Linked DNA regions of Homo sapiens. The protein of the gene in region 1 purifies or fractionates together with the protein of each later gene. This does not show direct contact. Each region holds a gene or a part of one and is shown in the gene's direction. Other genes may lie near its edges. The genes, in order: TMPO, ARPC1B, SLC25A1 and CAND1.

The links.
Region 2: the proteins of TMPO (region 1) and ARPC1B purify together in Homo sapiens (affinity purification with mass spectrometry; 2 studies listed by BioGRID). This does not show direct contact.
Region 3: the proteins of TMPO (region 1) and SLC25A1 purify together in Homo sapiens (affinity purification with mass spectrometry; 2 studies listed by BioGRID). This does not show direct contact.
Region 4: the proteins of TMPO (region 1) and CAND1 purify together in Homo sapiens (affinity purification with mass spectrometry; 2 studies listed by BioGRID). This does not show direct contact.

The regions. Positions count from the first base shown.
Region 1 is NC_000012.12:98,524,607-98,533,399, forward strand, and holds part of TMPO (thymopoietin), read left to right. Parts: intron 1-3,279; coding exon 3,280-3,406; intron 3,407-7,073; coding exon 7,074-7,232; intron 7,233-8,216; coding exon of another isoform or gene 8,217-8,793. UniProt on the Homo sapiens protein: May help direct the assembly of the nuclear lamina and thereby help maintain the structural organization of the nuclear envelope. Possible receptor for attachment of lamin filaments to the inner nuclear membrane.
Region 2 is NC_000007.14:99,391,511-99,395,316, forward strand, and holds the end of ARPC1B (actin-related protein 2/3 complex subunit 1B), read left to right. Parts: intron 1-1,160; coding exon 1,161-1,366; intron 1,367-2,518; coding exon 2,519-2,609; intron 2,610-2,940; coding exon 2,941-2,979; 3' UTR 2,980-3,306; downstream 3,307-3,806. UniProt on the Homo sapiens protein: Component of the Arp2/3 complex, a multiprotein complex that mediates actin polymerization upon stimulation by nucleation-promoting factor (NPF).
Region 3 is NC_000022.11:19,173,944-19,183,471, reverse strand, and holds SLC25A1 (tricarboxylate transport protein, mitochondrial isoform a precursor), read left to right. Parts: upstream 1-4,735; 5' UTR 4,736-4,798; coding exon 4,799-4,892; intron 4,893-4,966; exon of another isoform or gene 4,967-5,116; coding exon of another isoform or gene 5,117-5,231; coding exon 5,232-5,339; intron 5,340-5,430; coding exon 5,431-5,530; intron 5,531-5,606; coding exon 5,607-5,745; intron 5,746-6,267; coding exon 6,268-6,352; intron 6,353-6,521; coding exon 6,522-6,626; intron 6,627-6,778; coding exon 6,779-6,894; intron 6,895-6,977; coding exon 6,978-7,051; intron 7,052-7,227; coding exon 7,228-7,342; 3' UTR 7,343-7,891; downstream 7,892-9,528. Other genes in the region: CLTCL1 (clathrin heavy chain 2), read left to right, coding at 1-82, 2,666-2,741, 3,234-3,253. UniProt on the Homo sapiens protein: Mitochondrial electroneutral antiporter that exports citrate from the mitochondria into the cytosol in exchange for malate.
Region 4 is NC_000012.12:67,271,459-67,280,251, forward strand, and holds part of CAND1 (cullin-associated NEDD8-dissociated protein 1), read left to right. Parts: intron 1-2,041; exon of another isoform or gene 2,042-2,168; intron 2,169-8,793. UniProt on the Homo sapiens protein: Key assembly factor of SCF (SKP1-CUL1-F-box protein) E3 ubiquitin ligase complexes that promotes the exchange of the substrate-recognition F-box subunit in SCF complexes, thereby playing a key role in the cellular repertoire of SCF complexes.

The DNA.
Region 1 (8,793 bases):
TTTTTGAGACAGAGTCTTGCTCTATCGCCCAGGCTGGAGGGCAGTGGCATGATGTCGACTCACTGCAACCTCCGCCTCCCAGATTCAAGCAATTCTCCTGCCTCAGCTTCCCAGGTAGCTGGGATTACAGGCATGTGCCACCACACCCGGCTAATTTTTGCATTTTTAAAAGAGACGGGGTTTCACCGTGTTGGCCATGCTGGTCTCGAACTCCTGACTTCAAGTGATCCACCCACCTTGGTCTCCCAAAGTGCTGGGATTACAGGCATGAGCCACTGCACCTGGCCCAAAGAGATTTCTTGAAAACCTCTCAGGCGGGTTTGAAAAGTTGGAATTTCCTGGATGTTTTATTGATAGTAAATTTGAACATTCTCGTGGTAGTGGGGATTATGTACAAATAATTTGAACCTGATTGATTGTTTTTCCATGTTTTATTTTTATTTTAAGCATTATTTAGTTTTTCTGTACTACCTGACTGCACTTTTTGGAAAATTTGAGTAAGTCAGTAACATAGGATTAAGTTTGTTTGATTAAATCTTTTCTTGAAAGAAATAAGTCTTAGAACTCTTAGACCCTAGGCAACTATTTGGATATTATGGTGTGGGTTGCTTCCAGATATGAGCCTGACAGTTCTAGGTCAGTGCAATGTATGTGAATTAAAGCCTGCTAAAAGTACTCTCACTGTAACTCTCCACAGCCGTCTATTTAAGATTTCTCGTAAGTTGACATAATTGTTCTTATGAGCAGCTATTTTTTTGGTGAAGGTTTTTTGGCTTCTGATTATAGAATGATTAGCCATTAGCAGCTTTTTAAAAAGAATTTCTCATATCTTGCTTTATTTGAAGTATTTCAGGCCAGGTTCCATGGCTCACGCCCGTAATCCTAGGACTTTGGGAGGCTCAGGCGGGCATAACATTTGGGGTCAGGAGTTCAAGACCAGCCTGGCCAACATGCTGAAACCCCGTCTCTACTAAAAATACAAAAATTAGCCGGGCGTGGTGGTGCACACCTGTAATCCCAGCTACTCAGGAGGCTGAGGCAGGAGAATCACTTGGACCTTGGATGCAGAGGTTGCAGTGAGCCAAGATTGCGCCACTGCACTCCAGCCTGGATAAGAGTGAGGCACAGTCTCAAAAAAAAAAAAAAAAAAGATTTGATTTGAGCCTGACAATTCTAGGTCAGAACATTTTTATTGTTAAAAACAGTAATTCCAGTACATAGTCAAATCATGACTGATTTTTCCCCCTAATATTATTGGAAAGTGAGCATTCCATACAACTTGATAATTTTAGCCTTTTTCGTAAAATTTACTTTGATGTTGCCATTGTTTAATTAGCCATTTTTTTGTTCAGTACTCTGATGTTTTTTCTGTGATCACTGAGGCATTTGTCAGGCTGTTTGCCACAGCCTTAAAAGGTATCCGTACTTTTGCTTCCTTTTTATTTGTTCAACCTTGGAAATTTATAGTTTTTCCAGTAAATACTGCCTTTGTAGAAATTAATTTTAAAACTTTCAAATTTTCCCTCAAAGTTTGTTTCAAGTTATTTTGACTATTTTTAGTAAACTGGTGGTACAGAAGTTAATCTGGTGACTAAACTGTGTCACAGGTGATAATTTAACCATGAAGTCTGTCAGATTTCCTTCCTAAGTCATAAACTAGCTACTAAAATAACTGTGTTACAAGGAGTTTACAGTCCTGTCTCCTATCCTTGGGGTGGAGATTGGTTCCAGGACCCGGCCATGGATATCAAACTCTGGGGATGCTTTAGTAAGTCCCTTAATATAAAGTGGTGTAGTAACCTACACACATCCTCCCTTATACTTCAGATCATCTCTAGATTACTTATAACGCCTAATACAATGTAAGTGCTATGTAAATAGTTGTTATACTGTATTTTTGTTAGTGTTTTTATTGTCGTATTGTCTTTTTTTTCCCCAAGTATTTTTGATCTGTGGTTGGTTGAATTCACATATGTAGAACCCAACTGTATTCATTTGGGAGAATGGAGAGCCAACTGTATTCATTTGGCCTTCTTAAGTTCTCATATGCTGTTTAAAGAAAATCATTTCTGGCCGGGCGCAGTGGCTCATGCCTGTAATCCCAGCACTTTGGGAGGCTGAGGTGGGCAGATAACGAGGTCAAGAGATCGAGACCATTCTGGCCAACATGTTGAAACCCCGTCTCTACTAAAAGTACAAAAATTAGCTGGGCGTGGTGGCGCACACCTGTACTCTCAGCTACTCGGGAGGCTGAGGCAGGAGAATCGCTTGAACCCGGGAGTCGGAGGTTGCAGTGAGCCAAGATTGCACCGCTGCGCTCCAGCCTGGCAACAGAGCGAGACTCCACCTCCAAAAAAAAAAGAAAAAGAAAAGAAAATCATTTCTATATATGTATCTAAGTGTAAGCCTGTATGGTAAAGTCTTAAACTTTCCTGGATTAATTTAAATTTTTAAGGATTATCAAAAAGTTAGTAAGTAGCATTCATGATCATTTAGATGAAAAATGTTAAGCCCAGTCTGGCTTTACTTTCCATGGTTCATGCTGATCTGTTTCCGTTGCCATTGGAGTTATATGCTTTAAGAAATGAAATATAATTTTTGGTTATTTAGGCTGTGTGCAGTGGTTTACAACTGTAATCCTAACACTTTGGGAGGCCAAGGTGGGCTGATCACTTGAGTCCAGGAGTTTGAGACCAGCCTGGGCAACATGGCAAAAACCCCATCTCTACAAAAAAAAAAAAAAACAAAAAAAAAAAACCACAGGCAAAAAGCCAAGGGTGGTGGTGCGCACCTGTAGTCCCAGCTATTTGGGAGACTGAGGTGGGAGGATCGCTTCAGCCTGGGAGGTGGGGGTTGCAGTGAACTGAGATGGAGCCACTGTACTCCAGCCCGGGTGACATAGCTAGACCCTGTATCATTAAAAAAAAAAAAAAAAAGGTTATTTAAAAGAAAATGTTACCCAAAGTCAGTTTTACTTTTAGTTGCTCTTTTGCATTTTTGATGCCATTACTATCTCTTTTAGATAGGTAATCCAAAATGGACTATTTTAACAACAATGTCTTTAAGTTACTTGCTTGGCTGTGCGGTTTGTATGATTACAGTTCAACTTAGAAAGTGTTCTCCAATAATGAGTTGCTCTTAATTTAATGGAATTGCTAAGGCCTAATATTACTATAAACCAATTTGGTAGTGAGTTTGCATGTTTATGTTATACAGGTTATTATCTAGTAAGTGAACACTTTAATTCATATGGAAATGATTACTGGACTTTGTTTACAGAAAGCCACAAAAAAAACTGATAAACCCAGACAAGAAGATAAAGATGATCTAGATGTAACAGAGCTCACTAATGAAGATCTTTTGGATCAGCTTGTGAAATACGGAGTGAATCCTGGTCCTATTGTGGGTAAGTTGATAAAATTTCAAATACAGTATCTTTTCTCTGAAGCAGGACCCCAAATTATTTTCTCCTTTTTGTTTAGCAGTTTAGGTTCCAAGGACTGGTTTGTCATTAATCATTTGTTATCAGCAGAACCTGTGTTTCTTTGACTGTAAATGAGTGAAATAAAATGAGAGGATTGAATTAGATAATCTCCAAAATTACCTCTATTGTTGAGATTGTTTTATATGGTGCTTATATCGTACTTTTTTTTTTTTTTTTTGGTTTTGTTTTGTTTTTTGTTTTTTTGAGACGGAGTCTTGCTCTGTCGCCCAGGCTGTAGTGCAGTGACGCGATCTCGGCTCCCTGCAAGCTCTGCCTCCCGGGTTCATGCCATTCTCCTGCCTCAGCCTCCTGAGTAGCTGGGACTACAGGCGCCCGCTGCCACGCCTGGCTAATTTTTTGTATTTTTCAGTAGAGATGGGATTTCACCGTGTTAGCAAGGATGGTCTCGATCTTCTGACCTTGTGATCCGCCTGCCTCGGCCTCCCAAAGTGCTGGGATTACAGGTGTGAGCCACCGTGCCTGGCCACTTATATCGTACTTCTGCTGAGACGTGGGTCTTGTATGACAATTGAGGAAAATCTGAGGTAACATAGCTGGGCAAATTTGCCCAAATAAATGAGTTAATGGCCGGGCGCAGTAGCTCACACCTGTAATCCCAACACTTTGGGAGGCCAAGATGGGAGGATTGCTTGTGCCCAGGAGTTGAAGAACAGCATGAGCAACATAGGGAGATCCCATCTCTGCAGAAAATTTTAAAATTAGCAGGGTGTGGTGTCACAAATCTATTGTCCCAGCTACTTAGGAGGCTGAGGCAGGAGGATTGCTTGAGATGGTGGGGGGAAGTCAAAGTTGCAGTGAGCCGTGATGGCTACTGTACTTCAGCCAGGGGCAGTGGAGCAAGACCCTGTCTCAAAAAAAATAAATAAATAAGGGAAAAAGAAAAAGTGAGTTAGTGACAGACTTCTTCTTAATGAAGTTATTAAATTCCTAGCCTAGTACCCTATTTTTTTTTTTTTTTTGAGACGGGGTTTCGCTCTTGTTGCCCAGGCTAGAGTACAATGGTGTGATCTTGGCTCACTGCAACCTCTGCCTCCCAGGTTCAAGCAGTTCTCCAGCCTCAGCTTCCCGAATAGCTGGGATTACAGGCACCTGCCACCATGCCCGGCTAATTTTTATATTTTTAGTAGAGATGGGGTTTTGCCATGTTGGCCAGGCTGGTCTGAAACTCCCGACCTCAGGTGATCCCACCCACCTCAGGCTCCCAAAGTGCTGGGATTACAGGTGTGAGCCACCGCGCTGAGCCCCTTTTTCATTTATCATTAAAAGTACCCTTTTGAAAGTCCTATCTTGATTGGAATTGAGGAATTATACCCTTAAAAAACAAAAACCTAGGACTAAATACACTGGATTTCCATCGTTGGATTACTTTTAGGTGATGAAGATTTTGCAGTGTTGATTATGCCTTAGTTTTGGAGGGTCTTAGCAATAACCTCAAGATGAGAAAATTCCATTTTATTATTATTTTTTTTTTTGACAAGGTCTTTGCTCTGTTGTCCACGCTGGAGTGCAGTGGCACAGTCATGGCTTACTGCAGCCTCAGCTTAGGCTCAAGCAGTCCCACCTCAGCCTCTCAAGTAGCTGGGAACACAGGCACGTGCCACCATTCCCGGCTAATTTTTGTAGTTTTTGTAGGGATGGGGGCACACTATATTGCCCAGGGTGGTCTTGAACTCCTGGGCTCAAGCAGTCCTCCCACTTAGGCCTCCCTAAGTCCTAGGATTACAGGCATGAGTCACTGCATCTGGTCTTGATCTTCTAAGTTACCTAAAATTGTGGACGCTAGAGATTTGGTAGGTTTTGCTATAGGTATAGTTGCAAATAAAGATTTAGAATATTTTGTTTTAATGTATAAGCTGCTTCCAAATAATCATAAGCTTATTCATATACAAGTACCAACAGATATATAACACTTTTAAAAAATGTTTTTGTTTAAAGTTCTAAAAGGCCTGGGCATGGTAGTTCATGCCTGTAATCCCAACACTTTGGGAGGCCAAGGTGGTGGAATTGCTTGAGTTCAGGAGTTGAAGAGCAGCCTGGACAACATAGTGAAACCTTGTCTCTATTTAAAAAAAAAAAAGTAGCCAGGCATGTAGTGCACACTTGTAGTCCTAGCTACTCAGGAGGCAAAGGTGGGAGGATTGCTTAAGCCCACAAGTTCAGGGTTGCAGTGAGCTATGATCGCACCACTGCAGTGCAGCCTGGGCAACAGAGCAAGACCTTGTCTCAAAAAAAAAAAAAGAAATTCCAAAAGGGAGACACTGAAAAATGTGTGTTATAATATCAGCCTACATTAAATTATATGTTGATGTATGACCTGTTCATCTTAAGGCTATTTATATAACATTTCTGGACACATGTTGCTTCTAAAAAATATCCATTATCATTTTGCTCATCTTACCAGGAGTTAAGGAAAGATAATACAGTTAATGTAAAACAAAATCTATTTTGGTTTTAAACTGTCACTGATGTTCAAATGTATTAAGAATTTGTAATCAATTTTGCTTTGTGATATGTGTTTTCCATAAAAGGTCATTTTAACTGCAAAGTTGTTATATTTAAATCTGATTTATAGAACTTTTCTTTTCCCCATAACTGAATACAGGCATATTAATGTCTTAGAGTTGTGGAAATTTAATCATAGTTATTTTTCATAGAGGTACAATCCGCTTACATGTGATTTTTCTACCTTGGCAAGTACTATTACGTAGTAGTAGAGAAAATAAATGCAAGACTTCAGTCAAAAATAGTCATACATGGCTTTTCAGTAGATGGTCTATAGAAAGGCCTGTATTAACCTACTATGTATTTCATGCTATTAAAAGAAATGTCATTTCCCAAAAAACCACCTGTTGTAAAAAGAGTGCATTATATAGTTGTGTGGAATGCAATGGTGCGATATCAGCTCACCGCAACCTCCATCTCCTGGGTTCAGTTCTCCTGCCTCAGCTTCCTGAGTGGCTGGGATTACAGGCGCCCACCACCAGGCCCAGCTAATTTTTTGTATTTGTGGTAGAGACTGGGTTTCACCATGTTGGTCAGGCTTGTCTTGAACTGCTGACCTTAGGTGATCCACCCGCCTTGGCCTCTGGAGGTGCTGGGATTACAGGCATCAGCCACCACGTCCTTTTTTTTTTTTTTTTTTTTTTTAAGACAGCATCTTACTTCCTCTCCCAGCTGGACAGTGGTGCGATCTCAGCTCACTGCAACCTCTGCCTTCCAATTTCAAGTGATTCTCCTGTCTCAGCCTCCCAAGTAGCTGGGATCACAGGCGTGTGCCACCATGCCCGGCTAATTTTTGTATTTTTAGTAGAGATAGTTTCCCTGTGTTGGCCAGGCTGGTCTCGAACTCCTGACCTCAAGTAATGTACCCGCCTCAGCCTCCCAAAGTGGTGGGTTTACAGTCGTGAGCCACTATGTCTGGCCGCATTATATGGTATTTTTTTTTTTAAGAACTTGAGTTTAGAAAAATAAAGGGTGAAAATAGCTTAAAATGTTGCTGAAGATAGTGTCTGAGCTGCATCCTAAATGAAACAATACAGGTACTAAAGCAAGTTCTGCCTTAATCCAGGAACAACCAGGAAGCTATATGAGAAAAAGCTTTTGAAACTGAGGGAACAAGGAACAGAATCAAGATCTTCTACTCCTCTGCCAACAATTTCTTCTTCAGCAGAAAATACAAGGCAGAATGGAAGTAATGATTCTGACAGATACAGTGACAATGAAGAAGGTAAAATTTTAAATGATGTTAATCAAATGTATGGAATTTTTTCACACTCAAAATTCAGTGACCATGAAGAAAGTAAAATTTAAAACAATATTGGCAAGATACACAAATTTTATTCGTGTCATTAGAGTAATTCTGTAATTTGATTTAAATACTTTTTATTGAAAATTCTAAGAAGCAACATAGTACAAATTCATAATTTTCCATCACCTGAAATTGCAAGTTAACTTTGTCTTTTTTGCTACAAATCTCATTTTTCTGAGAGAATAAAGTATTACAAGTAAAGGCAAAGTTTCTCGTACTTACCTGTACCTATCACCTCCACAGAAGTAACTACTATTATTAATTCAATGCCTGTCTTTCAAGTTTTATATTTCACATACACATCTGTCTAATACATGGTATTATTTTATACTTTAAGAATAAAAAATTTATATAAACAGTATGCTAAATCTTATCACTTGCTTTTTCTTACTCCATTATTTTTGAAATCTAATCCTGTTAATTACATATCTGTTTATTCTTCATAATTAATACATAGTGGTAGCATTTAAATATGGCATATTTTCTCTGTTCTCTATTGATAGGCATTTAAATTGTTCGCAGTTTTTGTTAATCTGACCTCAGGGCAACTTTAAAGCAAATATTTTGACTATATTTTTAGTAGACTGTATAGTATCTTAAAATTTGATCATGATGTTTAAATATTTTTTAAGGATAGTATGTGAAATAAATGTCCTTTAAAAATTATAAATACAACTTGATTTTTGTAAACTTTTAATTAATATGACTTGTGATTATTTATTTTGATCCAGATTGTTTATATCTCAATAAGCTTTGTCTACCAGGGCAAATCTGGCAGATTAGTTCAGAATATGAAATTATAGTCTTTTCCTTTGACAGCACTATTTTTAGCAAAGAGGCAAAGAATAAAATCAGCTCAAACACAGGTAATGCTTAAACTTCCTGCCTCTTTTGCCTCTACAGGAAAGAAGAAAGAACACAAGAAAGTGAAGTCCACTAGGGATATTGTTCCTTTTTCTGAACTTGGAACTACTCCCTCTGGTGGTGGATTTTTTCAGGGTATTTCTTTTCCTGAAATCTCCACCCGTCCTCCTTTGGGCAGTACCGAACTACAGGCAGCTAAGAAAGTACATACTTCTAAGGGAGACCTACCTAGGGAGCCTCTTGTTGCCACAAACTTGCCTGGCAGGGGACAGTTGCAGAAGTTAGCCTCTGAAAGGAATTTGTTTATTTCATGCAAGTCTAGCCATGATAGGTGTTTAGAGAAAAGTTCTTCGTCATCTTCTCAGCCTGAACACAGTGCCATGTTGGTCTCTACTGCAGCTTCTCCTTCACTGATTAAAGAAACCACCACTGGTTACTATAAAGACATAGTAGAAAATATTTGCGGTAGAGAGAAAAGTGGAATTCAACCATTATGTCCTGAGAGGTCCCATATTTCAGATCAATCGCCTCTCTCCAGTAAAAGGAAAGCACTAGAAGAGTCTGAGAGCTCACAACTAATTTCTCCGCCACTTGCCCAGGCAATCAGAGATTATGT
Region 2 (3,806 bases), on another chromosome or scaffold:
GAGGTGGAAGTATCACTGGAGGCCACGAGTTTGAGACCAGCCCGGGCAACACAGTGTGAGACCCTTGTCTCTACAAAAAGTTAAGAAATTAGCTGGGTGTGGTGGTGCACCTGTAATCTCATAATCCCAGTTACTTGGGAGGCTGAGGCAGGAGGATAACTTAAGCATGGGAGGTCGAGGCTTCTGAACTGAGCTATGGTCGTACCTCTGCACTTCAGCCTCGGCGACACAAAACCTGTCTCAAAAAAAAAAAAAAAAGAGCCAGGCCCGGTGGCTCACACCTGTAATCCCAGCAATTTGGGAGGCCAAGGAGGGCAGATCACCTGAGGTCAGGGGTTCAAGACCAACCTGGCCAACATGGCAAAACCCCATCTCTACTAAAAATACAAAAATTAGCCGGGTGTGGTGGTGGGCGCCCATGGTCCCAGCTGCTCGGGAGGCTGAGGCAGGAGAATTGCTTGAACCCAGAGGCAGAAGTTGCAGTGAGCCAAGGGTGAGCCACCGAGACTCCATCTCAAAAACAGAAAAAAAAAGATATTTACTTCTTGCTCACATTTTATGTCCAGTGTGGGTGTTGTGAGGTGCTCTGATGGAAGCTGTCCCCAGCATGCTGTCCCAGATGCCACGAGGGAGCCGGAACCTGCGGAATCATGCCCTGGGTCTTAACATTTCTGCCCACATTTTATTGGCAGGTGCAATGGCAAGGCCACGCCTAATGCAAAGGGCGAGAGTTCGGGGTGTGCGGTTCCTCCAGGTGTCCAGGAAGGGCACTGCTCTCCCTCCCCTCCGCCCACATCTGTCAAGTCCCTTTTCACCCCTCTGCAAACATAATGGGGGTGCCAGGGCCAGGTCAGGCTTGCTTTTTGCCTAGAAAAGCAAACAGCTGCAGGGGTCTCCCCTAGAGCAGGTGTAACTGGCTGGGCAGGACAGAAGGCGCCTGAGCTCCCAGGGAGTCCCAACGCTGGCCTTGCTGGGGGAGGTGGCAGCCCCCAGCATCACCCCCGGTTTTGATACACCTGCAATTCGGGCCTCCCTCGCTGTGGCCCGTCTGTATCCTTGAGCTGGCATCTGCCTCCCGGGCGGCCAGACGCCCGCCTGGCCTTCCCTCCGGCCTCGGTTTCCCCTCCGCGGCGCTCCAATGGCCCCCGCCCTCCGCGCAGGGCCACGACTGCTTCCCGGTGCTGTTCACCTATGACGCCGCCGCGGGGATGCTGAGCTTCGGCGGGCGGCTGGACGTTCCTAAGCAGAGCTCGCAGCGTGGCTTGACGGCCCGCGAGCGCTTCCAGAACCTGGACAAGAAGGCGAGCTCCGAGGGTGGCACGGCTGCGGGCGCGGGCCTAGACTCGCTGCACAAGAACAGCGTCAGGTGAGAGCGGGAGCCGGGCCGGCGGGTGGGCGGGGCCTCGGCTCGCCCAGAAACAGCGTCGGGTGAGGAAGGGGCCTGGAGTCTTCCTCCTGGGGCATTGTGCTGGGACCTTGAGGACTGGGGACCCGGAGGGAGGGTAGGCGTGCCCTCAACTCGCTGCGCCGGAACGGCGTCTGATGAGCGGCGGGCCCGGACACGAGGGGACGGGGCCGATTTGTGGGCGGGGCCTTGGCGCCGTACTAAAACCGCGTGGGGCGGAGGCCGGCAGAGGTCGCGTAGCGGGCCCAGGGTAGGGAGTGGCTTTGACTCGCTGCGGAATAACATCGTTAGTTGTGGGCGGGGCCCATCTTGATCTCACCATAGCAGCCCAGGTGCTAGTGGAGCCTGGGAGGGACACGGTGCGACCGACATAAGACGGGGTCGACCTCTTTAGGTTGCATAAAAATAGCATCAGATGGGGCTGAGCAGCTAGCCTCGCTCTGCATTTCCGGGACTTAGGTGGGGACTGTCGTAGGGCTGGCCCCTACGGTTCTCTGGGGTGGCCAGGCAGTGACCAGCGGGCTTCCTGGGCGGGGTCACAGCTGGGGCGGGTCTATTGCTAGCACTTAGCGAGGTGGGGGCGGAGCTGAGGGTCTCTCCGCAGCCTTCTATGGATCTAGGGTGGGATGGGGAAGAGGCTCTTCAAAGCCCAAAAGCTGCCAGCCACACGTGTCCACCCCGCGGCGAATCAGAGGGAGCGGGAGCTGTATGGCAAGACTGGCCAAGCCCTTCGGTCTGTAAAACCTCCTGTGTCCGCCAGATCCGATGGCTTCCTCAGATGAAACACCTTTGTCCAGCTATCAGCTTAGTCCCTGGCTGCCCCCACCCCCATCTCCTTTTTTGTCCTGTCCAGCTGCACTGCTGGCACTGTGTACACTCCGCAGACACACGTGTCTTTCCTGCCTCCCAGGACTTGAGTGTCCTGTCCCATTTGCCTGCACCTCGCATGCCACTGTCCCCAAGGCAGAACTGACTTCTAAGCCCACTACACCCCCTCGGTACTTCTCACTAAAGCCCGCTCCCCAAGAAGTCTGGGAGCGCCTGGTGGACAGGGTGGGCCTGAGCCCAGCGCCAGCACAGGTTGAATTCATAAGCTCCTCTTCCTCTTTGCAGCCAGATCTCGGTGCTCAGCGGCGGCAAGGCCAAGTGCTCGCAGTTCTGCACCACTGGCATGGATGGCGGCATGAGTATCTGGGATGTGAAGGTGAGGCTTGCCCCTCCTGGCTTCCCGCCATGCCTCCCAGGTCAACCCTTTCCCCCCATCCCCACTCCCTGGAGATGACCCCCATCCTTCACTCCTGCAGAGATGGCACTGCATGGGGATGAGGGGTGGGGGCGGCCCCTTGACATCTGGGCCTTGGTGCTCACTGGGGCACCCGTCTTCAGGGCCGGGATTCCAACCCAGCTGACAGACTCCAAAACTGCAGGTTCTCTGCCCTCTGCTGTGCTGGGGCTGAGATGGGTGATCAGGTCCCTGGGAGTGGGGTGCCTGCAGGACAGCTGAGAACCAGCCTGTCCGTTCTGCCTCCCTGCAGAGCTTGGAGTCAGCCTTGAAGGACCTCAAGATCAAATGACCTGTGAGGAATATGTTGCCTTCATCCTAGCTGCTGGGGAAGCGGGGAGAGGGGTCAGGGAGGCTAATGGTTGCTTTGCTGAATGTTTCTGGGGTACCAATACGAGTTCCCATAGGGGCTGCTCCCTCAAAAAGGGAGGGGACAGATGGGGAGCTTTTCTTACCTATTCAAGGAATACGTGCCTTTTTCTTAAATGCTTTCATTTATTGAAAAAAAAAAAAAATGCCCCCAAAGCACTATGCTGGTCATGAACTGCTTCAAAATGTGGAGGTAATAAAATGCAACTGTGTAAAAAAAAAAAAAAAAAAAAAAGTAATTATGGACATGCTTGCCTATGTGGAAGGAGAGGTTTTTTGTTATTTCCTTGGGGTCTTGCTAAGTTTTCCAGGCTGCACTAGAACTCGTGGGAGCAATCCTTCTGCCTCAGCCTCCCAAGTAGCTGGGACTCCAGGGAGAGATTGGTGTTTGCACGGCCATAGGTAGATAGCTTATTTTTACTGCTTGCCAACAAAATTGATCCTGAAGCCCAACGGCCTTATGCCAAATGGTTCCCTCCCCACTGCTGTCCATCCTGGGCTGCCACTCCCAAAACTGCCAGTACCAGGTGTCACTGATTGACTAGTCAAATTCCTGGACAAAGGGGCTACACACTCCAGGCTGGTTGTGGAACTTTTGTTTTGAGATGGAGTTTTGCTCGTCACCCAGGCTGGAGTGCAGTTGTGCGTTCTCAGCTCACTGCCACCTCTGCCTTCCTGGGATCAAGCGATTCTCCTGCCTCAGCCTCCCAAGTAGCTGGGATTACAGGCATACACCACCAAGCCTGGTTA
Region 3 (9,528 bases), on another chromosome or scaffold:
GCTTGAGCTGGCCTGGAGGCACAACCTCGTGGACTTGGCCATGCCCTACTTCATCCAGGTGATGAGGGAGTACCTGAGCAAGGTAGGTGCCGGGCCGGCTGCAGCTCCCCGGCCCCTGTGTGGCATGACCCAACCCTGGCAGTGACTCTGGCCGCAGGTCTTAAGGGTGGGCCCCTTTGAGGCCAACCCAGATTCCCCAGCCAGCCCTGGCTGCCTTCAGGAGTGGCTGCTTTCCTTCATGCTGAAGTGGTTTTCTGCCCAACGTTAAGCCCCTCCAGAAAATCATCATGGGGAGTGCCCACTGGCAGCAGCCCTCCTGTAGACTCTGGCTGGGCAGCTGTCCCAATGTGCACACTGCTAGGAGCACAACAGGCGTGCTCATCCCCAGCCCTGGACTTCAACAAGGTGACAGTGAGGTGGCTGGCAATCCCAGCTCCCTGAGGAGCTCCCAGTGGCGTCTGGGGGTGCAGCTGTTAGCATACGGTTGGTGGTAGCTGCCTTTTGCTGAACACATAGTAGGAGTATTCACAGATCCACTGAATCCTTCTAACAGCTATAGGGAGGATGACTCTCTGCCTCATCGAAGTGACAGTACTTGATTGTAAAACTCTCCCTGGGTGTTGAAGTCCTAGGAGTCCCTGCTGGGATCTAGCTTTAGCCACTGTCCAGAGACCTGTGTCAGCAGTGTCATCTGGTACAGTTTGTTGTTTCTAACACTGGAAAAGCTACTTCCAGTAGCATCTACTTGCCTATCTAACCTCCTTCAAGCCAGATGGAGAGCCTCGGAAGGCACTCATGCTGAAGCATCACTCAGTGGAGCGAGGGAAGGGAGGGGCCTCCCAGGTGAGTGGGAGGTAGGAAGGAAACAGGAAGGCGGGCTCATGCTGCCAGCTTTAGCCTGGAGGGCTGCCTGCCGCCTGCAGAGCCTCCAGGGGGCTGCCCAGCCCCTGATAAAGGCCATCCCAGAGTCCATTCAAGGCCGTTGCCCTCCTGTAGGACAGTGTGACCCCATCCCATCTGCATAGCATGCCTGAGTGAGACTCCCTGATGACTCTCAAGGGTTGGGGAGGAAGGGACAGCCCTGGCTACGTGGCCTGAGATTCGTGGGCTGCCAGGGGACATGGACTGGTTGGATTGACAAGGGCCCTGGTTCCCCCACCACAGTGGATGGCAACTCCCTACAGGCGGCACGTGTGGTATGTGGTTTGTGGTATGCAGTGTGTGGTGTGCGGTGTCTGGTGCGTGCCTGTGGAAGCTGCTGTCACCATGATGAGCAGGTTTTCCCATCCCTCGGGTGTCTTTCCTGAAAGTAGTCTGTGTTCTGAGAACCAGCACAAGGAAAGAAAGTGCTTGAATCTCTTCCTGGCAGTAGAGGCCCGTGGGTTAGTGTCAGAGGAACTCAGGCTCACCAGGCCCTAGGGAGTGTCATTGCTGTGGGGGTCAAAGTGCTTGTGGGGATCCCCCAGGACTTTGAGGCGCACATTCCCTTTCTGTTGCGGATGATGGAGTTAGCAGCCACTATCACGTTGGTCCACACTGTGGCTGCACAGCCTTGGCCCAGGGTTCCCAGACTCCACTGGCCCTGGGAGGTGGTGGCTGCTGGAGCACCTTCTCTGCTGCCACCCACCTATTCCTGCTGGGGCAGATGAGACGCCTGTCATGGGGAGAGTTCAAGGAGAGGAGGGGGCTGGCAAGGGGTTTCCCAGTCAGTGGCATGGGGGTGTGAGCTGATTGTCAGCTTGAGCTGGTGCTCAGCTGACACCACACAGCAGTGCTGGGAGAATGAGGGCGCGGACAAGAAGCACAGTCCTTTCCTGGTGGACAGCTGGGCCTGGGGCCTCGTGGCTCATCTGGGAAGCTTGAGGGCCATCCCTCTGAGACGCCCCCAGCGCTCTCCCATTGTAGGGAGGGTACAGGCCTAGCTCAGCCCTCACCCTAGGTGTCAGCAAGTGTGCCCCCTGCTTCCTCCTCATTTCTCAGCCCCCCCCAGACCCCAGCTCATGGGGGGCACATTCTTATTTCTCTTTCTTACTCAGTGTGTTTGTGAGGGGATCCTAGCTGCACAGTTGCTGCCGCCCCTCTAGTGCAGTGCTGCCGCCTCGCTCTCTGGCAGTGGGTGGGGTCAGTGCCTGGTGAAGCCTCAGGGAAGAGTGAGGAGGCAGTTTGTCCTCAGTGCTTCTCAGGTGAAGTGTCTAGGTGCCAGGTGACTTGTCTCTGAGAGCCACATGATCTCTCTGCTGGTTTGGAGGGGCGGGCAAACTAGACTGGCCAGAGCCAGAAGCAGACAGTGTTCCCTGCACATGGCCCCAGCCCTGCAGGTCGGTAAGTGGCAGTGTCCCTGTATCCAGAGGAGGACTTGGCCCCCCATAAGCAGGCCACATGCACAGCCTGTAACAACTGACTGCCCCAGTGCCCACTGGGAAGCTCTGGGGGCCCCACCTGGCGTTCCATCTCAGCCCAGCTACCGAGGCTTCACCTCTCCATGCCTTGCTGCATTCTAAAAGTGCATGGGGTGTGGGCTGAGCCACTCCACATCTGCCCATGTGCACCTCCTCCACTGTCATTCTCCTGGAGGCCCTGTGTCCTGACCTTCCACTCCACTTTCACCTAGAGGCCGGACTGCACTCTGTCAAGCGGGTGCTCACGTGCTTTTGCCTCCTTGCAGGTGGACAAACTGGATGCCTTGGAGAGTCTGCGCAAGCAAGAGGAGCATGTGACAGAGCCTGCCCCTCTCGTGTTTGGTAGGTGGCACCTGTAGCCCCCAACCCCCTGGGGAGGGAGCAGGGAGGGAGTCAAAGTCCCACTGCCCTTACCTGGCTGGGCTTTGGATGGGGATGGGAATAGATGGGTGGGGGCTGGAAGGATCCCAGTGGCTACTGGGTGTGGAGAAGTGTACGCCCAGGAATGTTGGCACGGCCGCTGTCCTCCCTGCTGTAAGGATGCCTGCCTTCTGATAGGGGTGCCTGCCTAGCTGTGAACTACTGCTGTGTCCTGCTGGGCCTGGCCCCTGGACAGCAAGGCTGCTGCTGGTGTGTGCTGGGAGGGGCTTTGCACCTGAGAACCTGCCCAGGGCAGCCTGGCTGTCGAGCAGACTGGAGAGGCTGTGGGGTGCTTGGACACTGTGGGGCAAACACAGGCCTGAGGGTGTGGTGTGAGTGTGCAGCACGCCGGCGGGTCTCCAGCGTCCGGCTGAGTGTGTCCTTCCACCATTAATGTCATTCTGGTTTTTTTAGATTTTGATGGGCATGAATGAGACCCAGCTGATTGCACTAAGTAAGTGTCCCATTTGGAGACTAGCTTATCCTCTAGCCAGGCCAGGTTCTCTGGCTGACCCCACGCTCCTTGCCTCTGGATGCCTGCTCTCTTGGGGCCTCAGCGTCTGGGTGGTAAGGGCTGGTCCTATAGACCCTGCTCCCTGGGCCCCGGGCTACTCAGGGGCAGCCAGGAGAGGACCCCCATGGGCAGGAAGAGCTCTGCTCATTGTGGGCTTCCCCCTCTGCAGGCCCTGCCGTGGGCCCAGCCCCTGCCAGCTTCCCCTATGGATATGCCTCTGCTCCCAACTTCGCCAGCCTCCAATGTACAACTTCCGCGTGTAGTGGGCGTTGTCACCACCCACCCTACCTGCAGAGTTACTAACTTCTCCAAGGAGCATGTCACTCCAGCAGCACAGGGGACGCAATGGGAGGCAGGGACACCTGGACAATATTTATTTTTGCTGAAACCCAATGACGGCAACCTCTGAGCCATCCCAGAGCCTGGGGAGGCCAGGGTAGAGGCTGACGGCGCAAGACCAGCTTTAGCCGACAACAGAGACTGGACTGTGGGCCCTCCTGCTGGAGCCAGGCCTTCCTCCTGGGCGCCTCCGACTGGCTGGAGCTGCCCCCTCCAGGCCAGTTTGAAGACTACATGAACACGTCTTGTTTGGAGGTACCGGACCTCATAAAAGGACTCTCAGCCTCTTGGCAATCATAAATATTAAAGTCGGTTTATCCAGGCAAAGGTGCTCTGCTTGGTGCTGGTATGGGTAGGAGGGACGGGCCAGTTTCCTAGGCCCCGCAGTCCATTAAAGATTTGCTGGGTCCTCTTTGGGGTGTGGGACCTCCGTTGCCCAGACAAGCTGCCTAGGAGAATACAGCCGCTTGCATTTGTGGTCTTTCCTGACCTTGTTCGCTGAGCGCAGAAACTACAACCGGGAAAGGTGTGGGTGGGAACCGGCAGGTGAGGCCCGGCCCGTGGCTGCTGCGGGAGGGGGGCCCGGCGGCGTAGCCCCTTCTCACCGGCCTCCCGCCTCCCGCCTCCAGGTTTGAAACGTTAGAGTTCCTCTGGGACTGGGCTAGCCCCACGTGTTTTCGGGGAGGGTGTGCCCCTGGCCTCCGGGATCCCTGGGGATCCCGCCGCTCTCGACAGTCGCGCAGACCCGAGGCCCGCTATCCCGCGGCGCGGCACACAGTGCACCTTGACCCACTGCTCGGAGCTGGGCCACGGCTCCGCCTCCCGCAGCCCCGCCCCCGTCCCGCCGCTCGCGGTCGCCCAGGGACTCGGCCTCGGCCATTGGCTGCGCTTTGGCCCCGCCCCTACGCCTGCCTCGGCGCGCCCCGCCCAGGCCTCAGTTTCCCGGCCCGCACGGGGCGGGCTGGGGGCGGGGCCTGGCTCGGACCACGCGGGGCGGGACCTGGAGCTGACGCGGCCGCCCCGCCCCTGGGACCATAACCGGCCGCCGCCGCCACCGCGGACCGAGCGCGGAGTTCTGGAGTCTCGGACCCGAAGCCGCCACAGGGCGCCCCGCCTCCCGCCCGCCATGCCCGCGCCCCGCGCCCCGCGCGCTCTGGCGGCCGCCGCGCCCGCGTCCGGGAAGGCCAAGCTGACGCACCCGGGGAAGGCGATCCTGGCAGGTGGGCCCCTCCGGGACGCGGACCCCTCTCCCGCCGCGCTTCTGGGTGGGCCCGGGACGCTGAGGCCCCGCCCCACTTCCGGGTTGGGCCGTGGGCTGGGGAGTCGTGGAGGCGCGGTCCTGGTCCCCACCCGGCGCGCTGGGACTCGCCCGCCTCCCGTCTGTCACCCCCTGCGCCTCGCCGGGACAACGGGGTGAGGGCATGGGGGCGTGGGGCCCCAGCCTATGTTCCCCGCGGCACTGGCGCGGCGGCCGCGCCGACCGAAGTCCGGGACGGGGGAGGGGCCCGAGCGCCAGCGGCCGGGCGGGAGTCTCAGGAGCGGGTTCCCGGTCCCTGCAGGCGGCCTGGCGGGTGGCATCGAGATCTGCATCACCTTCCCCACCGAGTACGTGAAGACGCAGCTGCAGCTGGACGAGCGCTCGCACCCGCCGCGGTACCGGGGCATCGGTGAGGAGGGGGAGGCCGCGGCGCCGCGGGGGGCGGGTACCCAGGGCGGCGGCACCGAGGGCCGTGGGGTCCTGACCGCCCCCTCCCCCAGGGGACTGCGTGCGGCAGACGGTTCGCAGCCATGGCGTCCTGGGCCTGTACCGCGGCCTTAGCTCCCTGCTCTACGGTTCCATCCCCAAGGCGGCCGTCAGGTGAGGCCCGGCCGGTGGCTGCTGCGGGAGGGGGGCTCGGCCGCGGCAGCCCCTCTCACCCGCCTCCCGCCTCCAGGTTTGGAATGTTCGAGTTCCTCAGCAACCACATGCGGGATGCCCAGGGACGGCTGGACAGCACGCGTGGGCTGCTGTGCGGCCTGGGCGCTGGCGTGGCCGAGGCCGTGGTGGTCGTGTGCCCCATGGAGACCATCAAGGTGGGGAAGGTCCTGGCGAGGACCCCGGACACGCAGGGAGTACGGAGACGGGCGGCCCCGCTGGCCCGGTGCTCCCGGGGCAACCGGCAAGCTGGGGAGGGTCTCCTGGACGCCAGGGAAGGCCGGCGGGGTGACCGCGGGGCCCTGGGGCAGGACGCCTGCCACGAAGGGCCACCCGTGGAGGCTGAGTCTATGCTAAAGGCAGCCTTAAAGTCTTTAAAAAATACTTTTATAAAGCAGAAAACAAAATGACACCTTCACTGCCAAAACTGGAAAAGAGCAGCAAACATAAAGGGAGAGGCTGCTCACAGGGCTGCCCTGTGTCCCAGAGCATGGTCCGTGTGGGCTGCCCTGTGTCCCGGGGCATGGTCCGTGTGGGCAGCCCAGGGCGGCCTTGGCTGCACTGCTTCCTGGGGAAGAGTTCCCAGTTCCCTCCACCCTGGATGGGCCCTGGGCCTGCCAGCTAGCCAGGACCCACCCAGGTGGCAGCCGAGAACCTGCGCCTTTGCTTCTCTCTCTCAGGTGAAGTTCATCCACGACCAGACCTCCCCAAACCCCAAGTACAGAGGATTCTTCCACGGGGTTAGGGAGATTGTGCGGGAACAAGGTGAGCCACTCGACCTTCCTGATAGGGCTCAGGGACCTGGGCCAGGGTGGGAAGGGCCTGCACCTCCCATCCTGCCTTGGGCTTTGTGCAACACCCACCCCCCACACACACCAATTCCCAACCGGGGCCTGAGAGGCTGCAGGGTAACCCCGTGCCTGCCTTCCCGCAGGGCTGAAGGGGACGTACCAGGGCCTCACAGCCACTGTCCTGAAGCAGGGCTCGAACCAGGCCATCCGCTTCTTCGTCATGACCTCCCTGCGCAACTGGTACCGAGGTGTGTCTGCATCACAGGGCCCCATCTCTGCACATGGCCAGCTCCTCTCCTCTCCTTGGGGCCACCCCTGGGTGGCGGGCACCCACCTTTTGAAGTGCTGATCCAGGCCCCTCCCGGCACCCTCTGACCCACCTCACCCCTCCTATATCCAGGGGACAACCCCAACAAGCCCATGAACCCTCTGATCACTGGGGTCTTCGGAGCTATTGCAGGCGCAGCCAGTGTCTTTGGAAACACTCCTCTGGATGTGATTAAGACCCGGATGCAGGTGGTGGGGCCGGGAAGGGGAGGGGAAGGGGGGACCAGGCCAGAGCTAGCTGCTGAGCCCCTGCCTGCTGATGTCCCCCATAGGGCCTGGAGGCGCACAAATACCGGAACACGTGGGACTGCGGCTTGCAGATCCTGAAGAAGGAGGGGCTCAAGGCGTGAGTGGGGGAGGGGCAGGGCTATTGTCCCCACCTCAAACCTTTCCCGGCCTACCTGGCCTGCCCACTCTGTCCCCTTCAGGCCTCTGTGCCTCTCACTTCAGTATCTGGGGATTGCCCTGTGCAGGGACACTGTGCTGACCTGCCTTCCTCTCCCCGCCCCTCCTCCCACCCAGATTCTACAAGGGCACTGTCCCCCGCCTGGGCCGGGTCTGCCTGGATGTGGCCATAGTGTTTGTCATCTATGATGAAGTGGTGAAGCTGCTCAACAAAGTGTGGAAGACGGACTAAGCCTAGAGAGGCCGCAAGGGGACCGCCCCAGGCACCGCCAGAGTGTCCTGCTACCTTTGTCTCACGATTCCAGTGCAGTAGTGCCAAAAGGCCCCTTCCCACGTCCCTCGAGCTCTGTAGCCTGGTCTGTGCATTGTGGCTGTCAAATCCATGTGTCCCCCCTGTGGTCTGTGTGTGACACCACCACTGTGTCCCAGTGTCTGGCCCAGCCATGGCTGGATGTGCATCTGGCCTATGACCCTGTGCCTGTGTTTCATGTTCTGTGTCACGTGACCCTGTGCCCCGCCTCCCGGGGTGCCCGTGTGGCCTGGGTCCTCGGCCCTGTAGCCCTGGCCCGGTCCCAGTCCGGTGCCTTCCACCCTGCCCTGGCCTACCACAGCTGCCTCCGGGCCTCGGCCTGGCTTCACCGCATTCCAGGGGCTGCAGCCCCCTGCTTCTCCCGCCATTGGCCTTAACTGGCCCTCGGGCCCTCTCTCCGCCCCGGACAGGGTGGCACCCACCACTCTCAGGACCACCCTGCCAAGGCAGAATAAACCGGATCCTGTTGCAGCCTCCTGTCCTGTGTTCGTCCCTGTATGGACCCATCTATGCATGGGCATTGGTGGCTGTGCCTCTGCAGGGGACCAGGCCACCCCCATCTGAGGACACTGCAGTAGGGGGACAGGGAAAGCCTAGTGTCCACCCAGGGCAGAGCAGCTGTGGCCACAGTGTTGGCTCCCTGAGAAGCCCAGCGCCAGGCCAAGAAGGATCTGGGTGCACCCTGGCCTTCCCTGTGGCCTCTGGGCAAGATCCCGTGGCATGGGTAAAAGGGTGTGTTGACAAGGCCTAGGGGTGGCCTGGCAGAGTGTTCAGAGCAGGGGGCTGGGCCCAGGAGATGGAGCCCCCAGGACGACTGCCTGCCCCTCACCCACAGGGAAGCTTAGGGAAGGGTTGGGTTGCCCAGGGCCCCTCTGGGGTATGCCCAGCTCCTCAGTGAGTGAAATGGGCTGCTCGTGGGGAGGAGGAGATGGGGGCACGTTGAGGCCTCTGAACTCCAGGTGGGGGTGGGTGTCTGGCATCTGCTACCCAAAGGCTCTGGGCAGGGGCCCTCCCTTGTTCCTTCACCTGGGCTGGGAGGCAGCTGCCCTGGGGCAGCAGGAGGTGGGGCTGCCTGACCAGGGCTCTCTGGGCACCTCATGCCACAGCCATGAGCCTCAGAGAAAGGTGTCCCTCTGGCTGGAGGCCAGAGCTCTGAACTGGCATGTCCCCATGGGGCCAAGCCCCTCTTTCCACAGCCTATGAGCCACGTGGAGGACGCTCAGGCAGGATGGGATCACTTAGTGCCCCTGGCTGTGCAGAGAAGCCAGCTTCCTGTCCAAGTGCCTCCGTGGGGGAAGAGTCATGCAAGCGTTTGGCTCAGACTGGAGAACAAGCTTTTGCCAGCCAGAAACTCCATGTGAACAGGTCCCGTCCCTGGGGAGACTGCCCTGTCCTAGTGACCTCACACAGCACCAGATGCCTGGAATCCCGGGAATGTGCAGCTGGGGAGGAGTCTGGGGTGCAAAGGGCCCGAGGTGGATCTGAGAGCCAAGCATGGGCTTGGGGGTACAAAGGGAGCACGGGGTTTTGAAGCCTCCTTGGGGAGAGCCGCTGGGCTGGGGAGGGCTCGGGGTGGCTCAGCACTCAACCTGTGCTGTGATGGGATGGCCATGCACTCTCTATCCTCACGGCAGACTTCCCCATCTGTTGCCACAGAGAAAGGGCCCAGGCAACAGAGCTTCCCCTTCCGCCCCTGTGCACTAGGGCATGCAAGTGCCACCATGAGAACCCCACGCCAAGATGCTTCCTGTCCCTGGAGCTCAGGCCACTGGTTCTGCACCTCTGAAGCTTTGTTGTGGGGTGGCAAGCAGGCAGTGGGCCACACTGGTCCACAGTGCCAGCCATGAAACCTGGAGGGGCACTCAGCTCTCTGGGGCCTGCCCTCCAGGCCTCAGCATCCACTTGCTGTACTCCCTGCCGGTGCTCAGAATCATGCTTAGCTCAGAGCAAGCCCTCACACATGGCAGCTTTATTCTTGGGGTTGCAAGAGGTTGTTTACAGTCTCCCCAGGTTCCAGGCAGTTCTGGGAGCAGCCAAGCCCTCGCAGCTGCCTGGAGGGGACCCCCACCCTCACATACTGACCTCCAGAGATGCCAGCCACTCACTGC
Region 4 (8,793 bases), about 31 Mb from region 1:
TTCAACTAGTCATTCTCCTGTATAAGTTTAGAAAGGCTAAAGAAATTATGTGGTGATACCATACATGTGATTATTGACTGAAGCTTGCTTTCTTAAATTTCCTGTGAAAGAAAGATAACATGTACATACCTAGTTGTTTTTTTCTTAAATAAATTACATGAAAGAAATAGTGCTCTGATACTAAATGACAGTCACTGCTGAATTTGGTAAAGATTATGTATGAATTTTGGTTGTACTGAATCAAAACAATTCCTGGAGGATTAGTGTAATATTGATATATTCCTAATAGTTGGTGAATGCTAAACAAGGTATATTTAGGAGCAGTACGTGATTTCCAGTAATTTGGCATCATTAAGATATTTTTATCAACTGTCTTCTAAAAAACATTTTTATAATGCGCTGTAGCCATCTAGTTAATAAACAAGTCTTTGGAACTAAAGCACTTTATATGTTTAGTTTAAACAGACATTTAATAATTAATTAGTGAGCGTTTGGAGTCAAGAATTTTGAAATTTTTTCTGCATATTTTTAGTATAGGCATTTATTTTAATTTGCTCTTTTTTAAAAAAATGATGCCTTGTTCTCATTAGAAGTTTATTTATTTTGGCTTAAATACCAAGATTTGTGGCTACATATTTTAAAAATACCTAGCACTAGAAGGATCTTGAGGGCAAGGTTAACATTATGGAATGACCAACATGTGCAAAGCACTCTGCCTGTACTAAGGACGAGAGAAGAAACAAATGCTGCCAAAATGAAGAGCAAATTTTATTATCCTCATGGTAGAATCCAAAGAGAATTTGACCTAGTCACAAGATCTGGGTTCTAATCATGTGTGATTCTTTGTTATGAACTGTAAGATCTTATGCAAGCTATTTAATTTGAGATTACATTTTCACTTCTGAGAGGCATGGACATGACTAATTACAAAAGGTTGTTATAGGCATAAAATTTCAGGTCTATTTATATAATTACATAGTTCATTAATACAGAGAAGGTAAAGAAATGAATGCAGGCTTAAAAATTTGGAAATTTCTGCATTTTAAAAGAATCTTTTTGTAGGACTATTAAGGCTCAATTTATTGAAAAATTGTAATATTTCTTTTGTGTTTTAGTATTGTGCATTATTTAAAAATGAGATATTAAGACTTAGGAGAAATGGGGAAGCATTAGGATGAGAAATGCTGAGATTAGGAACTCTGCCATATGCAGGGTTTTTGTTGTTGTTGTTGTTTTGGTTTTTTTTGTTTGTTTTTTTGAGATGGAGTCTTTTCTGTCGCCAGGCTGTAGTGCAGGGGCGCCATCTCAGCTCACTTCAACCTCCGCCTCCCAGGTTCAAGCAACTCCCTTGCCTCAGCCTCCCAAGTAGCTGGGATTACAGGCACACACCACCACGCCTGGCTAATTTTTTGTATTTTAGTCAAGACGGGGTTTCACCATGTTCGCCAGCATGGTCTCGATCTTCTAACCTCGTGATCCACCCGCCTGGGCCTCCCAGAGTGCTGGGATTACAGGCCAGCACCGCATCCACCCATGCAGGGTTTTTTGTTTGTTTGTTTTAAAAAAAGGAGACTAGGAGCTCTTTTATTAAAAAAAGGAGGAGGCATTTGTGTGTCTTAATTACTAGGATAGTGCCTGTTACTTACTAGCCTCGGTTTAGTGAAAAGTTATTAATGAATGCCAATTCAAATAAAACCTTCAGAAGAAAAATGAAGAAACATTCCTTGGGACAGTACCTTAGAACAGTGCTTCTCATCACTTCCTCCCTAAAAGAAACACTTCTGGAGTGTACTGAGACTTTTTGCCAGAAAACATTTGTACCAGTGTATATAGTTATTTTAAGGACCTCTAGGGATGCATGTTCCATAAAGGAATAAAGAGTAAACCTTATAATGTAGCCAATAGATAGGGGATTCGGTTGATACCAGAGTGAAAGCTTTAATGTGGATGAACCATGTGACACTCCATTTGTGAATATTAATATTGAATATTTGGTAGGTTGAGGTAACTAAGTTCTTTTCTTTTTTTTTTTTTTTTTTAGAGATAGGGTCTCGCTCTGTCACCCACGCTGGAGTGCAGTGGCACCACCTCAACTCACTGCAGCTTCAACCTCCTGGGCTCAAGCGATTTTCTTCCCACCTCAGCCCCCAGAGTAGCTGGGACTACAGGTGCGCACCACCACACTCAGCTAATTTTTTTTATAGAGATGGGTATCACCATGTTTCCCAGGCTGGTCTCAAACTCTTGATTTCCGGCAATCTGCCCACCTTGGCCTCCCAAAGTGCTGGGATTACAGGCTTGAGCCACTGTGCCCAGCCACTTCTTTTATTTTCATATTCTTCAACCACCAGTTGATTTAAAATATTCCAAGGAATCAAGAGCTAAAGAAAATATCATTATCTTTCTATATATAATAGTTAATATTAATGCTTACTGTGAGCTTGATTTTTGTTTATCCTTACAACTTTAGTAAAAGAGGATAATAATAATCTCGTTTACAGTTGAAGAAACTGAGATTTGGAGAGATTAAGTACTTGTTTAAGGTCAGTTAGATAGTAGGTCTGGGACTTATAGGATCTCTTTACCCCCAGAACATGAACTCTTGACCACCCAGCTATGTCACTTCTCCAGGGTTTAGACTAGTGGATGTTAAGATTCAGGCCTTAAATTTCATTTCCCTCTAAAATTAGGCTTATAGAATATTTCATGCTAGAAGATGCTTTTAATAATTCCTGAGGACTACAAAAAGTTTAAGATCTGGTGCTTACTTTCCCTAAATCTACATGCTTGTTGAATAGTTAAGACACTATTGTAAAAAGATGAATAACCCAGGGCAATATGTAATTGTCAGGCATTAAGTGGCAGAGAATATTAAAGCAAGAAGATTCATGTCCATGGAGAGATTTGAGCCAGGTGTTGAAAATGAAACTCTAGATAGAAAGTGAAAATGTAAAGCACACGATACAAAACTTCACTGGGGAAGAGGGAATAGATAACCTGACTGTAGCTGGATGGATATTGTCCACAGAACTCCTTAAGAATAGGGACCTTGTCTTACTAAACGGAATCGTTCTCTTTGTCTGGCTCTGGGCCATGTGGGTTCTCAGTAGGTGCTTGTTTAAGTAGAATTGGGTTTTATTTCCATTATATAGGGATTTTAGGAACCTCCAGAAAACCATTGTAAAATCAACTAAACTGTTTGTTTAAATACCACTTGATAGAATCTTCTTAAAATAATTCACCCCATTTTGGAATGCAAGTTTTTCCCAATTTGATAAAGGTTTATATTACCAGATTTATTTATTTAAGTGTTTTGGATATTGGACGGTATTTTCTTTTGGAAACTGTTTAAAATGCTTGTAAAAAAAACTCAAGCCTTTTAAGGAATCAGGTTTTCAGAGCTGGAAGGAACCTTAGAGATCCTATCATATAGCTGAAAGTACAGTGTGGGTGGGCATTTACAATAACATAACAGGAAATAGTGAAATTATCTTAAGTACTTGTGCTTGGAGAAAAGCAGGTTTAATCAGAAGAAATAGATTTGCAGAGATTAAGAAGGTGATTTCTGGGCACTTTTAAAAATACTTAGAAGGTTGATGGCAGTAACTTTCTTGATTTTACTTTGATGTTTTTTTCTTGATATATACTATGCTAACTGGTTATCAGCAGTGATTAGGGCTCACCACTGAGAAAGAGGAGGAAGGGACCTCACAGAGAAAACTGGGAAGAAAGATTAGTAAAAATTAGATTTCTTTACATGAACAATATTAAGACTATTCCAATTTAGGTCTTGTGTGGTGGCTCACGACTGTAATTCCAGCACTTTGGGAGGCCAAGGCAGGCAGATCATCTGAGGTCAGGAGTTCATGACCAGCCTGGACAACATGGTGAAACCCCATCTCTACTAAAAATACAAAAATTAGCCGGGCATGGTGGTGCATACCTGTAATCCCAGCTACTCGCGAGGCTGAGGCAGCAGAATTGCTTGAACCTGCGAGGCAGAGGTTGCGTGAGCAGAGATTGCACCACTGCACTGTGGCCTGGGTGACAGAGGGAGACTGTCTCAAAAAGAAAAAAAAAAAAACTGTTCCAACTTAATTCATAGCACTCTAAGGAATAACTGAGGAAAAGTGAAATAGCAGTGGTGTATGTGCAGGATCTCTGAAAGGTAATTGGTGTACTGAGTGATAAAATTGACCATATCAACTAGATTTCTGGTTGGAAGCAAGAGTAAAATTGTGTTTATGTATGATGGGAGAGGCTGTGGTGAGAGTTATTGTGAGTGCAAGGTATCTATCGATCTAGTGCATACCTAGTGTAAGTTCCAGACTGTGTTACTCATCACTGTGTTTGCAGAGTAGAGTTCCTTATGTTGGTGCCCTCAAAATACTTGTTGAATAAAGGAATGAGATGGCACTGCCTACAGGTCATATCAACCTGGGAATTCCATTGAAGTCTGAAACGTAAACATTTATCTTTTTCTTTTCCCGTCTTAATGCCTTCTTTATCCTTATTTTGGCCTGTTAAATTACCATCCACTGAAAGTCACAAGCAGAAAATCTTTGATATCACCCTTCTCCCGTCTGTCTTCTTTAGTCTCCTGATGAGTATTTCTCAAATTAATCTTGCTGTCTCAGGCCTCTTCCTAACCCAGTTTGTTCCCTCTGGCCATTAGAATTTTCTTCCTATATACTGCAGCTGATCATTGCCTCCCTCACTAATTTCCATTGACTACAAGATAAACTCCAGATTTCTTAGCTGTTGCCCATCTGAATTCGTAGAGACTGCTCTCCTAAAATCCCCAACAGTCTCCCTAGTCTCCTAATATAACTCATTTAGTGGATATTTTCTTTGCTCATCTATTTGGTATATTTTTTTAAATCACTTTTTCCTTCTTGGAATTCTCTTATATGGGCATCCTGACACGAGTTGGGTTTTTGTCCGTAATAGTCAGGGAAAACACACACTTTAGGGTATCAGAGGATGTTAGAAGGAACCTATTCATTTGGGTAATTTGGGAAAGAGTCTAAGGAAGTGAAGCCTTGCTTTAGGTTGAGTGTTGTCAGAAAGTGAGGTCAATTCTATGATTCGGCCTCTTAATAAATTTTACAGGGAGGGCTGACCTAAGCAGGGGGAAAGCTGTAGTTGGTAAAGAAGTATCAGTCACTCATTTAACTGGAGAGGGGAATGTTTGGTATTTTGTATTGCTCAGGGACCTTGTCCGAAATGGATGTTCTGTGAGATTGTTTATGTCCAAGAAAACAATATGCCTTAGCTGTTAAGCATCAGATCGGTTAGTAATAACACTGAGGTTTAGTTATGAGTCTCAGATAAGTTTCTGGAATGTGGAGGCTGCTGTTTTTTTCTTTATCAGTGCCCACTTTTGGCCAAGGGTAGACAAAGTTGGGCTGCAGGACATTAATTTTTGATTTTCACATCTTCACTATGGCGGAGATTTTGTTAAGATCAGAGGAATATCCATTCCATGTAGTTTGCAGTTTAACCAAAGTTAATCCTTTCTTCTGTTGTAAGATGAGCAGTTTATTCATCTGATGTGACAATGGCTGCAGGGTAACATTAAGACTCTGGACAAGGATATGTTAGCTGACTGTATTACCCAGTCTTGTGGTTTTCCTTTTACTTCTTTCCTGCTAGCTCATCCTTACCATCCCTATATCTAATCCATTTTGAAGAACTATTAATTTTAGTTTGTAAAATTCAAACCAACTAGTTCTCATTATTTGTAGTATGTTTTGTAACATTATCACAAACACTGAGTTAGCAAGTACTGAACCATTGCTTCTGAGGGAATTATGGAATTAGTTTCTCTGAGTCCTGAGTCACATTATTTTAATCAGTTGATGAGTTTGTAACCTCGTTTTATGAGTGTTTCTTTTAAAGTTGTCTTAATATATATTGCTGATTTATTAACATTGAATTCACAGCCAATAAAGAAGCTTATCTAACACATATGTTTTTTTCAGAAGGCACATTATAGCCTTCTTGCACTTAGGAATGCTAGACAGCATTTCAGCACTGTGCTTGGAGGCCATATTAAACAACAAGAGCGCCAAGAAAAAGCACAAACATGTGAAAAACATGGGCTGAAATAGGCCAAGAAGAAGATGCTTGTTTACAACATGAGAGCTGGAGCTAGAAGGCAGAGTGTTGCTTTGTGCCACCACAGCTGGGAATGTATGTGTTGGATTACTCAAAATTTTCACCACTCGACACTCATCCAAATGACTGTGAAATAGGAAGCATTAATTTTGCTTTACAAATAAATGTTAATGAGTAGGTGAATTTGCAAATATGGAACCTGGGAATAATGAGAATCAACTGTATGTCATTTTTTTTTCCATCTTCATTGATTGCCATAACCTAAGTCAGGCCATCATAATTTCTAACTTAGTCATTCTCCTAACTAGTCTCCATTCAGTATGGCCAAATGAAGATTTGTTCTCTCCAAAGTATGGTCCACAGTATAGCTGGAGTAATGTTTCTGAAATGTAAATCTGATCATTGCATTTATTCCCCATCTGTAACCCAGTTGTTTTTCAGTAGCTTCCCACTCTCTTAGAATAAAGGCTAAAATCCTGATATGGTCTACAAATCCTTTAAATTCCTGGCCCTTGCTTACCTGGCACTAACTTCCTCCTGCTTCACCGTAATTTTGCCTACTCTTTATTTATTTTTGAGACAGAGTGTCACTCTTTTGCTCAGGCTGGGGTGCAGTGACGTGATCTTGACTCACTGCAACCTCCACTGCCCGGCTTCAAGCGACTGCCGCCCAGGTTCAAGCATTTCCCCTGCCTCAGCCTCCCAAATAGGTGGGATTACAGGCATGTACTACCATGCCTGGCTAATTTTGTATTTTTGGTAGAGACGGGGTTTCACCATGTTGTCCAGGCTGGTTTGGAACTCCTGACCTCCACCTGCCTAGGTCTCCCAAAGTGCTGGGATTACAGGTGTGAGCCACCATGCCCAGCTCCTACTCTTCAGATCAGTCTTTCCTGACACAACCCGCAGTTCAGTCTAGGTCATGTTACTTTGTTTATATGATAGTGCTTTCTTGTTTTGGGATGAATCTCACTCTGTCACCTAGGCTGTAGTGCAGTGGCTCAATCTCGGCTCACTGCAACCTCTGTGTCCCAGGTTCAAGCGATTCTCCTGCCTTAGCCTCCCAAGTAGGTGAGATTACAGGTGTACACCACCACACCCAGCTAATTTTTGTAATTTTAGTAGAGACAGGGTTTCACCATGTTGGCCAGGCTGGTGTCGAACTCCTGACCTCAGGAGATCTGCCTGCCTTGGCCTCCCAAAGTGCTGGGATTACAGGCGTGAGCCACTGGCACCTGGCCCCATAGTGTTTTCTTGATAACACTTTCCTTCATAGCATTTATCTTAGTTCTTAGTTCTACAGGTGCTTACTCATACATGCAATTTAAAAAGTTAATATGCCTTTTACTAGACTGCAATGTAAGCTCCAAGACAGCAAGAATTGTGTGTGCTTTGGTTAGCCCTTATATCAGCAAAAACTAGTACAGTACCTGATATGTAGTAGGTTCTTATTACACAGTGTATGAGTATATAACGCCATTCCCATTTTGACCTCAGCCTATATTCCCATCATCTTCCTATTAGGTTTCTGTGCTCCACATACTGAACTGTTTCCTTAGTCCTTCACTCTGAGGTGCTCTGTCCTTCCCCACCACCAAAAAAAAAAAAAAAAGTAATTTAAATTCCAAACCAATTTTTCCCATGCAAACCCCTGTTCATCCTTTGAGATCCAACCTAACAGTCAACTCTTGGGTGTGATAATTTCCATATGCTCTTGAGTAGTGTTTTATAAAATGTATTGAGATCTGTGCCCTTAGCACCATACCTAAAAGAGTAAATGCTGAAGAGACATGGACATGCCATGGACAGCTTTCAAACTGGTCAAACAGCTTCCTTAATAAGATTAATAGTGTAAATTTTTAATACCACATTTATAGAAGGAATAAATTATTCCCAGAACTTTGTGATTTCAGGGTCACCATTTAAAAGCAACTCTTGGTATTATAATAATCTACTTTTTCTGCTTTTTAAAAATATCTATTGCTAATTTTGATAGTGCTCATTTCAACTTTTTAAAATATTTAACCATTAATCATAGATTTTTGAAAATCAGTAGGCTTCTTTATTACAATATAAGTAAGCTTCTTGATGTTAGGGGGGCCAAAGTGTATTCAACTTTTATCTGTCCTGATTTCTTAGTCCAGAGTTTCTTACATAATAGACAGTGAATAAATAAACAATAAGTAAAGAATGAATTTGTGCCGGTAGAACCATACAGGACCATAAAACAACTTTTTACTTGGGATTATGTTTTTCTACTTAAATTGATGATCCCTGTTTTCTCTGGAAGCAGGTAACTGGCACTGCAGTGGTTCTTAGAGGTCATAACTATTATGGTTATTTAATGGATTTTGTTTAAGTAAAACAGTTAAGATTTTTTCAGTACTTTGTGTGCAGGAGTGCCTGCATTAATGTGTTATGCAATTTTTCCACTTTCCAGAATATTAATGAAAATTAGTCATGTAGTTTTAATTTTGTTTTGTCACATTATAAAATGGGTGAGGGGCTTCCAATTAGGAGAGCTGTGTCCATTTTTTAAAAGTACGTGCTTAACTGATCTTGTATTGCCCTAATGCAAATATAAGCTTTTTTAAAAATAAGCAGTTTTACAGAACGTGGTAAGAATTAAACTATTAGGTTGGTGCAAAAGTAATTGTGGTTTTTACCATAATA